Linked DNA regions of Homo sapiens: region 2 is linked to region 1. The links come from fine-mapping of genetic effects on gene expression. A gene starts in region 1. The other region holds a variant in brackets. All regions are shown on one strand. Distances are from middle to middle. Region 1 holds the start of TENM2-AS1 (TENM2 antisense RNA 1). Region 2 overlaps SLIT3 (slit guidance ligand 3).

Region 1 (5,376 bases):
CTGTCTAGGTGCTTTTACTGAGATGTCTATTATAAGATACAGGTATGGTCATGTGACCTGTGCCTGCCTGACTCATCACAGATCCCCAGCTCCCTGACCAGTGATTTGCCCAGGAATGTGAACTCCCTCTGCCAGGTCAATCTTTCTTCCATGAGATATTTTATGAAAAATAGAAATGCTGGGGGAGATACCTTCCTTTTTCCTCTGGGTTCACTTAGCTGTGATGATGTAAGCCTGGAGTCAACTTTGGCTAAGTCTGCCTGACCACCCCCCACCCCCGCAATGTGAAGAGGACATTAGTCTACTGTAGGAGAAAATTAGGTCAACTGCCGAGAGAGAAACCCTGCCATGGGATGGAAGGGGGCTGTGAGAAACAGAAAGAGAGACGTCCATCTGATATGGTTTGGCTGTGTCCCCACCCAAATCTTGATTTGAATTGTATCTCCTAGAATTCCCATGTGTTGGGAGGGACCCAGGGGGAGGTAATTGAATCCTGGGGGCCGATCTTTCCCGTGCTATTCTAGTGATAGTGAATAAGTATCACGAGATCTGATGGGTTTATCAGGAGTTTCCGCTTTTGCTTCTTCCTCATTTTCTCTTGATGCCGTCAAGTAAGAAGTGCCTTTTGCCTCCCGCCATGATTCTGAGGCCTCCCCAGCCATGTGGAACTGTAAGTAAGTCCAATTAAACTTCTTTTTCTTCCCAGTCTTGGGTATGTCTTTATCAGCAGCGTGAAAACAGACTAGTACACCATTTAATGACATCTTAGAGTCTCTGAGGCCAGCTTCTCCCTTGTGGTGGCCCTGTTAGGTAAGACAGCGCCTACTCTTCTAAGTTAGTCTGAATGCACTTCCTGTCTCTTGCAGTGGAAGGATTCCAGACAGATGTAGGGGCAATGTATTTGTGAATTTATACCCACTGTGGTGGGGGAGCATTTACACATTAAGAAGGCGCCTATAGAAGGCACAGTTATTACATCTTTCTTTGTCACCTGTTGTCTGAGTACCCACCACATGGCACTTGTCACCAGGGATACAGGGGCGACCTGGTCCCTGCACTTATGGAGCTCACAGATGCCATGATGTAACTGCTTCTTTTTTTTTTGAGATGGGAGTCTCACTCTGCTGCCAGACTGGAGTGCAGTGGCACGATCTTGGCTCCCTGCAACCTCCGACTCCCTGGTTCAAGCGATTCTCCTGCCTCAGCCTCCTGAGTAGCTGGGATTACAGGCATGCGCCACCACACCCAGCTGATTTTTGTATTTTTAGTAGAGATGGGGTTTCACCATTTTGTTCAGGAGGGTCTTGATCTCCTGACCTCGTGATCCACCCGCCTCGGCCTCCCAAAGTGCTGGGATTACAGGCGTGAGACACCACGCCCGGCCTGCTTCATGTTTTTGCAAGGCCAGAGTGAGTGAAGAAAGGAATGGAGGACAATGCGGGAAGGAGGGGGAGGACTCTTTCAAAGGAGATTCTTTGAGGAGTTCTTGGGAGGCATAATGAAAATCTTCCCTGCACTGAGTTTGGGCAGGAATGAAGGGACTAACACTCCATTACAAAGCTTTTGGTGAAAGGATGTGGTCCCGGTCTATCCATCCGCCATCATCTTACATTTCCCCAGGCTGTAAGGAAGAGCCACTGATACTTTCCTCCACTAAGAGATGCCTCCGTCTGGAGGATTGTGGGAAGAAAGGGTACCTAGGTGGGTTGGAATTTCACTGGGCACTGTTCTATTGTGATGGCTTCACTGAGATTGTTGGTCTTCTCTAAACTCCAGGAATGTTCAGAGCCTTGGGCCCTCACACCCCTCAGCTGACCAGGCTCCCAGGAGCTTGCCAGTCCCGGGGACGTTCAGGCTATTTGCTTCATGCATGATACCCACACATTCTCTCCAAATCCCTGCTCTCCACATGGGGAGCAGTGATTACATGGAGCTGGTTAAGTGGCTGCATTTCAAAGTTCATTTAGTTTCTTCTCCATTCCAAGAGGCAGGGCTGGGGCCACCAGAATCTTACATCTCTGGCTTGGGTTTCAGCTCCCAGCCACTCTCTTTTACAGAGCCCACAAAGCGTGGACGGCCACCCAGCCTTCCCAGTTTACATGATCATGGGGAGAGCCTGTCAAAAGGTGAGCATGACACAGCAACCCTGCTAGTTGCCCAATCCTCGTCCTCGTGTGCTAGACATCTCTCAAATCTCTCCCCCTACCTTCTTTCTTTCCTCGCTGCTAGTGATTTAGTTTCTTGTTTGGACTAATGCAGCACCCTCCTTACTGTCCCTCTCCTCCTATCATCTATCTTGTCCCCTTCTCATCTGTCTTCCTCCATACCTGAGGAAGTCAGAGAGATCTTTTCTTTCCTTTTCTTGAGACAGGGTCTTGCTCTGTTGCCCAGGCTGGAGTACAGGGCATGATCAGAACTCACTGCAGCCTCAAACTCCTGTGCTCAAGCAGTCCTCCTGCCTTGGCCTCCCGAATAGCTGGGACTACAGGCATGTGCCACCATGACAGGGTCTCCCTATGTTGCCCAGGCTGGTCTCCAACTCCTGGGCTCAAGGGATCCTCCTGCCTTGGCCTCCCAAAGTGCTAGGATTATAGGCATGAGCTACTGTGCCAGGCCATGGTCGGCTATTTAAACTTTTTTTTTTTTTTTGGTTGTTGTTGTTGTTTGTTGTTGTAGAGACAGGGTTTTGCTATATTGCGGTTTTGCTATATTGCCTAGGCTGGTCTTGTCTTGAACCCCTAGGCGAAAATGATCCTCCCACTTTGGCCTCCCAAAGTGTTGGGAAAACAAGCATGAGCCACTGTGCCCAGGCTGGAGAGAGCTTTCTAATGCCACACATCCCAGCACATCACTCTGCTAATGAAGTCCAGGTAGGGCTCACCATTGCCCTCAGGATAAATGTTAGCCTGGCACCATGTTCTTTTCCATGTGCAGTCTCTGGCTGCATCTTCTTTTTCTACCCTACTCTCTAACACATCCACTGCCACACTGAATTAGTTTTCTGAAATGCCATTCCCTTTTTGGCCTCTTGGCCTTTCCACTGGCGACATTCTTTGTCCTGTCACCTCTGTTCCCTATCTCTGCCTGGCTGATTCTTACTACTCTACAGAAATGATTCCAGCTCCTCTGTGAAGCCCTTCCTGATCTCTTGTCAAACGGGAGACCTGATCACTCTGCTACGTGCTTACCAAGTCTTTGTTCATCTTCTTCTTCTTAGGCACTCAGAAAAGACAACATTTTCCAGGCTTCCCTGTGGTTCAGTTGAGGTTCCCTGATAGTGTTCTCACCAGGGTGGGTGGAAGTGAGGCCTGCCGTATCCAGGCCTGCTTATTAAGCTCTCGTGAATCACCCAAACTCTCTTCCCTTGCTGCAGCAACTGCACAGAGCCTGTGCTTAAGATGGCAGGATCGCAAGACAGAGCAACTGGAGCAAGTCCTCATTAAGAAGAGCCGCCCGATGCATTTGGACTGCGATGTGTTACGCCCATGAGATTTCAGGGTTAATTTGTTACCTGGCCGTGGCCTATCCTCTTCCAGCAGATACAGTTAAGTATCCCTTTCTTTGTGCTTTTGGCCTGTATTATAGCTTACATCACACTACTAATATTGTCTTCTCCATGAGACCGTTAGCTAGTCGGTGCCACCCAGTTTTCTTTATCTCTCTAGAGTCTCCTTGTTCCGTGGTACTGACTGTAGTGTTGGCACCTAATAAACATCTTTTGAATAAATGAACTTTCATGCCCTCATGTGACAGTGGAGCAGGGATGAAAAGACACAGCAAGACTAAGATAGATAGATAGGGAGAGAAGAGCCCATCTTGCCAATGGTGAGACAGCCTGCTAGCCTTATGGGGCCAATGGGTACCTTCGGCTTAGGGGCTGCAAACTCCCTGCCATGGGCTCACGAAACATCTGACGAAATGGCCACTCCCCAGTTCCCTCAATCCACATCACACCCAACATTTCCCTTATACCTTCTTCCAACTGCTCTCCTGCCATTTCCAGAAGTTGCTTTCATTTCATTCACTAAACAGTTTACGAACTGAATTAAAATAAATGAGATGCAAATAAATTCCAGGCTTTCTCCCTCATTTTCAAATTACATTTTCAGTCCACTCAACCTGTTATAATCTCATAGTGATTTTCATTTAAGAGAGCTAAATGGATATGTGATTGTTGTTACAGGAACTAACACCAGACAATTAAATGTTGAGGTGTTGATAGATAAAACTGTGTTTTGATTTGCATAAACACGATGCCAGCAAATCTAACCCTGGCAGAAATTCAGTTATAAGACTTGTGTGCCTAACTTGGGCTAATTACCACAAGTACCATTATTAAAGAAAGAGTTTTAATATTTGGAGTTGGGATTATAGCCACTTTATTTTAGGGCCACATTTATCTTTATTTGGAAAACTTAGTCAAAATGCATAACTGATTTATCAGAGAAAAGGCACGATTACTACTTATAATCAACTTCTACAGTGCAGCATATCAAAAATCAATTACACAGCCCTGAAATCCAGTCATTAAGGATTTAACTACTAATCTCATTCCATTTTTGTCTTTAGGAGGCTACTGCAGTTTGCAACTTTGCAGATACCAGCAGAGGAAGAAAAACCTGGGAGACTGCTGCTAACCTAATGTGGAGACTTGACTTAAACTTCAGCCAGACAAAGGCGGAATCTTAATATGGAGGGGCCTGGCTCTGCAGGGAGGTCACCTGGGCTGGCTGGATTTCAATCCAGTTACACAGCAAAAAAGTTACAACCCAAGCTTTGGCGATGCTGAGCCTTCTACTCTCAGGGATTCCAAAGCATTTGATAAACTCTTTCTTTGTTCCATTGTTTACTGACTTCCTAGTGCTTGTCTTGTTCTGCAGTTATTTATTTATTTTTATTTATTAGTTTTTACTTATGATCTACCCCTCTCTCCCATCTCCCCGCAACCTGAAGGTAAGGTGCAGGAAGTTATGGCCTTTGCTTTGTATGCCATTACATTCCCCCTCCCCAGGGAAGGGGTTAGCATGATGGTAGGAACTGTTCCCTCTTGGTGACAGATAAGTGACTGGAGCAGAATCCACTTCTGCTGAGAAGCTCTGGATGACCACGGATAAGCAGGAAGGCATGTGACATATTGGCAAGTGAGTCAGACAGAAAGAGAGACGTGGGATCGAGTCCTGGCATTGCCCTTTCTAGCTATTGTGTCCTTGGACAGGTAATTTAGCTTCCCTGAGTCTGTTTTCTCATCTGAAAAATGAAGATAGTAATAATTATCCTCGTGGGGCTATTGAAAAAGTTAAAATAATACAAGCAAAGCATTTAACATAGGGTTTACATTATAATATTATAATTATACATATAATTATACATTAATTA
Region 2 (5,376 bases), 510 kb before region 1:
CCAGGATAGTCTCGATCTCTTGACCTTGGGATCTGCCCACCTCAGCCTCCCAAAGTGCTGGGATAACAGACACATTCTGACAGTATCATTGCAGTACCTGCATCCAGCCCTAGAGCCCGGTATCTTCCAGTGCCTTCTTCAGTTATCTGAGTTGATAAATTCTCTTTATGCTTAAGGTGGTTTGAACTGATTTTCTTCCTCTTTGCCCAGGAGGAAAGCTAATATACCACTTCATAAGCTAGCTGTAAGCATTAAAAGACCAGATGCCAGTGGTTCAGAAGCACTCAGTCACATTAGCTATGATGATTGTTATCACTGTCATGACTCCTCCTCTATGTTTTTGAGTGGATTTTGGGGCCAGTCCCCTGGGAGTTACCCACATAGAGTAGAAGCCTGAAAGTGTGCAGCTGGTATGTCTCAAAGGCCGTGGTGAGTCCTGTGACCTGATTCCAGGACTGCAGAGGAGACATTGCATCTTGGCAGAGCGGTCAGCACCTGTCCCCTTTCTCTCTGCATCTTCCATTTCACCCCACTCCTCAATTCCCATCAGAGGCCTCTCTGGGTGAGGAAGAAAATGCCTCATTTTTACATAGGCCAGCTCCCTCCAGTCTGAAATGGGTGCAGATAAAAACATGCTAGCCTGCGATGGGGAAGCAGGTAGAATGTGGTAGAAAGAGCACTGGGCTAGGAGCCCAGAGGTGAGTCCCAGCCTTGGTTCTGCCTGTGCCTTGGGGCTACTCAGCAGCATCTCTTCCCACTCCTGCCCCCAGAAGCCACATTGCAGCCACACCTGTAGCTTCTTGTGATTCCCCCAGTGCATATGCCTTTCCTGACTTCAGGGCCTCTGTCCAGGGCATTTATATTCTCCCGGCCTAGAATGTTCTTCACTCCCATCCCTACTTAGGTAACCCCCTCTGGTTTCTCAGTCTCAGTCCTGGAAGCACAAGTTAAGAGGAGTGATTCTGAAAACAAATAGTCTTGGGTTTAAATTCCAACTTTACTACCTACTGATTGCATCACTTTGGGCAAGTTACTTAATCTCATTCAACCTCTATTTACTGATCTGTGAAATGGGGATAACAGCGGTATATCCTTCACAAGGCAGAGGGTGACTAAGATAACATAACTAAAGCACTTAGCCCTTTGTGCAGCACATAGTCACGGTTTGATGAATGTCAGTGCTGATTATTAACCTTCCTTTCAGAAAGCCTTTTGGGTGGCTAAGACTGGGTTAGGTGCCTCTCACTTGTATCCCCATGGCTCTTCTCTCAGGTATCGCCTTGTGTTGTAGTTGCTTATTTACTTATTTCCCCTTCTAGACCAAGAGCTCCCTGAGAGCAGCAATTGTGTCTCATTCACTGTTTGTTTTCTTTCCCCCTCCAGAGTTAAGCACAGCAACTAACCCGTAGCAGGCATTCCTCTCTGAATCTGTCTTGTCTTCTTTTTTTTTTTTTTTTTTGAGACCGAGTCTTGCTCTGTCGCCCAGGCTGGAGTGCTGGAATGCAGTGGTGTGATCTCGGCTTACTGCAAGCTCTGCCTCCCGGGTTCACACCATTTTCCTGCCTCAGCCTCCCGAGTAGCTGGGACTACAGGTGCCCGCCACCATGCCCAGCTAATTTTTTGTATTTTTTAGTAGAGACGGGGTTTCACCATGTTAGCCAGGATGGTCTCAATCTCCTGACCTCGTGATCCGCCCGCCTCGGCCTCCCAAAGTGCTGGGATTACAGGCATGAGCCTCCGTGCCTGGAGGCACATGGATTCTTGAGTGTGTGTTGTGGCTCCAGGCATTTCCCAATGCTCAGAAAAACTGAAACTAGGGCTGCCAGCCCAGGGGAAGGAAGGGAGGTCTTGACAGTTGCTAAAAAGTTCATGTCCACCGTGAGTTTGAGCTGGGGTCATGCCCTGGAAGTTCTGTGTACAAAAATGCCCCCACGTGCAGTGAGCTTCCTGCCCTTCCCTTGGACCGGGCTGTGCCATGGGACGGGGCTGCAGAGAATGACCCAGTTATACTCTCCTTCCTGGGCCAATTGAGTGCCAAGTGACACATGTCAAAGGACAGAAATGCCATGACGATAGCCCGTGAATGCTTTTCCCCAAAGCTCATGGAACGAAAACTGAAATAACAAAGATAATTGGCTGCAATTATAAAGTAAACTTCAGCACTTTGGGAGGAGACCTGATTTTCTGATTTGGAAATGGTATCACTTCCCTTGGCCAGGCATGGCTTCCAAAGTGCACCGAGGAAGGCAGCCCTCACTTCTTTCCCCAAACCGTCTTCCTGGGGTGGAGGGTTG[G/C]GGGTAAGCAGGAGAATGAGTGTCAAAGAAAGTGAAAGCTGGCAGACCTGGAGAATTATGGCTGGGAGCCTCTGGTTCAGAGACATTGGCTGAGTCCAGATCCAGGGTTTCCAATGCAAGCTTTTCAGCTCCCTTGGGTCTCATTAGTTATCTCAGGCAGAGCTGCCAGCTTACAAAACAAAATTAAGTTTAATTCACCAAGAAAAAACAAAAACAAAGTTGCCCAGCATTTCTCTAAAGGGCAGAGTGTGAGAGGCTGTTGCAAGCATGCAAGACCCCAGCAATGCCATCTGAGCAGGAGGTGATTTTTTTCTCCAGTCAGCTCTCTATTAACCCTCACTGGCCCTTCTCTCACAGTCTCCTTTCAGTTCTACCCTGGGTGAGTCAAGCCAAACTGAGCCTCATTCTCACATTCAGTCTTGCAAGTGCTCTTTGAAGTAGGGCTACAGTACCAGTTGCCCTCTTTGTCTGACCCCAAATCCTGTGCTCATGCCCATTCCACCAGAGGCTCTTAAATGTTTAGGTCTCAGGACTCCTTTATGCTTTTCAGAAGCATCCAGGACTCCAAGAACCTGTGTTTATGTGGGTTATAGCTATTGATATTGATCATATTACTAACACTGAGAAAATGTTAAAATATGCATTAATTCCATTTAAAAGTAACAATTATATACCCATGACATGTTTATATAAAAAGCACATTTTTAAGACAAACCAAAAGAAATGCAGGTGAGAAGAGTTTCATTGTTTTATATTTTTGCAAATCTTTTTAATATCTAGCTTCCTAGAAGACAGCTCAATTTTCATATCTGCTTCACCATTCACTTTGTTGTGGTATGCTTTTTGGATGAAGGATAAGAAATTTGGCTTCACACAGAAATGTATTTGAAAAGGGAGGAGCCGGGTGCGGTGGCTCACGCCTGTAATCCCAGCACTTTGGGAGGCCGAGGTGGGTGGATCAGCTGAGGTCGAGACCAGCCTGACCAAAATGGAGAAACCCCGTCCCTACTAAAAATACAAAATTTGCCAGACGTGGTTGTGGGCGCCTGTAATCCCAGCTACTTGGGAGGGTGAGGCAGGAGAATCACTTGAAGCTGGGAGGGTGAGGCAGGAGAATCACTTGAAGCTGGGAGGCAGAGGTTGTGGTGAGCTGAGATTGCGCCGTTGCACTCCAGCCTGGGTGACAGAGTGAGACTCTATCTCAAAAAAAAAAAAAAGAATAAAAAGAAAGAAAAAGCGAGGAATACTTTAATAGTCTTTTCAGGTAATTATGGGTGTTCTTCTTTGATTAAGACCAAAGCTCAACAAGTGGCATTTTCTTAAAGGCTAGTTGTAGTGTGGAACTGCACTTGTACCAGTGAACCTTTGGTCCTCTGTTACATAACTCTACCGATCTGTCTTACGCTTTGAATGGAACTTTCCCCATGCACGATCTTGTAATATCATGTGTTGGTCAATGGAAAAATATCGGTTCACTGAGTTATGCAGATCTTCCAAATGCTAACACATTTCATTATACAATATATTTTTTAAATAATGTCCTTTGATATCACCGCTGATCTCATCAGAAAAGTCTTTAAGTGAGGGAAAGTTGTTAAGCTCAATGTGGCAGTGAAAAGTTTTCCAAAATTTTAATTTTTACTTGGAAGCACGAATTTATCATTGGCAACAAATACTGTGAGCTGCTTTTTTTTTTTTTTTTTTTTGAGATGGAGTCTTGCTCTTTCACCCAGGCCAGACTGCAGTGGCGCCATCTCGGCTCACTGCAAGCCCCGCCTCCTGGGTTCACGCCATTCTCCTGCCTCAACCTCCCCAGCAGCTGGGACTACAGGCGCCCGCCACCGCGCCCGGCTAATTTTTTGTATTTTTAGTAGAGACGGGGTTTCACCGTATTAGCCAGGATGGTCTCGATCTCCTGACCTTGTGATCCACCTGCCTCGGCCTCCCAAAGTGCTGGGATTACAGGCATGAGCCACCGTGCCCAGCCTGTGAGTTGCTTTTTTTAAAGTGATGGGCTTACTTTGTTCATTTTCAAGAAATTATCTACTAAATAGCCATGTCTGAATAATGAGTTTGCCAGTCTTTCTTTTAGGTAAAAACAGTGTTCCATGAAAAAATGTAAAAGCCAGCTAGTTCAGCTTGCAACTCAATTACACAGGTACTTTTCTCTAGACAACCAACATGCTGTGTGTGTACATCTCCCATTTTGTCATACGGGACATTAAAGGAATGTGTGCTCAAGAGTTGAATGTTAATACAAACAATAATTCTTGGTACTTCATCAAGGGCATTCCTGGTTTTGGTAAAACCTGCAAGTGCACAGAGGTGAAGAATACAGTGACCACCAGTTTCATTTGGTAGCGATGTCCTGATTCATGCTGAGGTGCCAGCAGTTTTACCCTCCACTAATTTTGTACCATCAGTGCAAATGTCAACACAGGGCAAAAGGAAAATAACATTTTAACCTTATTGTAAATATAGTTTTGGCCTCATAGACCCCTGAAAAAGCCTCAGGGACCCCCGGGGTCTATGGATGACACTTTGAGAACCACTCTGGTCATTACATATTGGTGGGCAATGGATAGAGAGAGATAACTGCTCTAAGTCAGCACGAAGTTCCTAATTTAAAAGGCAAGCTTACAGAATCTTATGGAAAGCAGGACAGAAGCAAATACAGGACATCTCAGCCCTCAAAGTCACCAGAATACTCTCTGTGAAGGTAGGGCCTCACTGCCTTCAGAAAGTACAATTATTGCCATGCAACTGTCCTTTTAAATTCATGCTTACCTCACTATTTTAGAACTGAAACCTAAAAATCTGCTTGCTTCCATTTATGGAAATGTTTACAAACATCAGGTTTCCTGGTTCTGGAAACAAACTCTGCAAAGCCTACATCTTCATAACGGTTAGAGAAGAAATGCAGAATCCAGTGCTGGTGAACAGCTTTCCCCCATATCTACCCCTGGTTAATATCCATGATGTTTAGACATATATTTTTGGTCTAAGGACAATGAGCATGGATTTGTTGTCCTATAACTTGATATCCCAAGGAAAAGAGGGGGGAAGGATGACATAGCTCCAG

The links. PIP is the estimated chance that this variant, and not a neighbour inherited with it, causes the effect.
Region 2: its variant is fine-mapped to the expression of TENM2-AS1 in non-classical monocytes (Schmiedel 2018, PIP 0.95).

The regions. Positions count from the first base shown.
Region 1 is chr5:168,229,054-168,234,429 of GRCh38, reverse strand. It overlaps TENM2-AS1 (TENM2 antisense RNA 1), which reads left to right and starts at 2,058. Exons shown (of 3, transcript NR_109894.1): 1 at 2,058-2,126; 2 at 3,374-3,544; 3 at 4,570-4,847. The region is part of intron 27 of TENM2 (teneurin transmembrane protein 2); the gene reads right to left.
Region 2 is chr5:168,737,562-168,742,937 of GRCh38, reverse strand. All of the region lies in intron 20 of SLIT3 (slit guidance ligand 3), which reads left to right. Among named protein-coding and RNA genes, the nearest start is that of MIR218-2, 28 kb to the left of the region's middle. The variant G/C (reference allele first, on the strand shown) is at 2,295.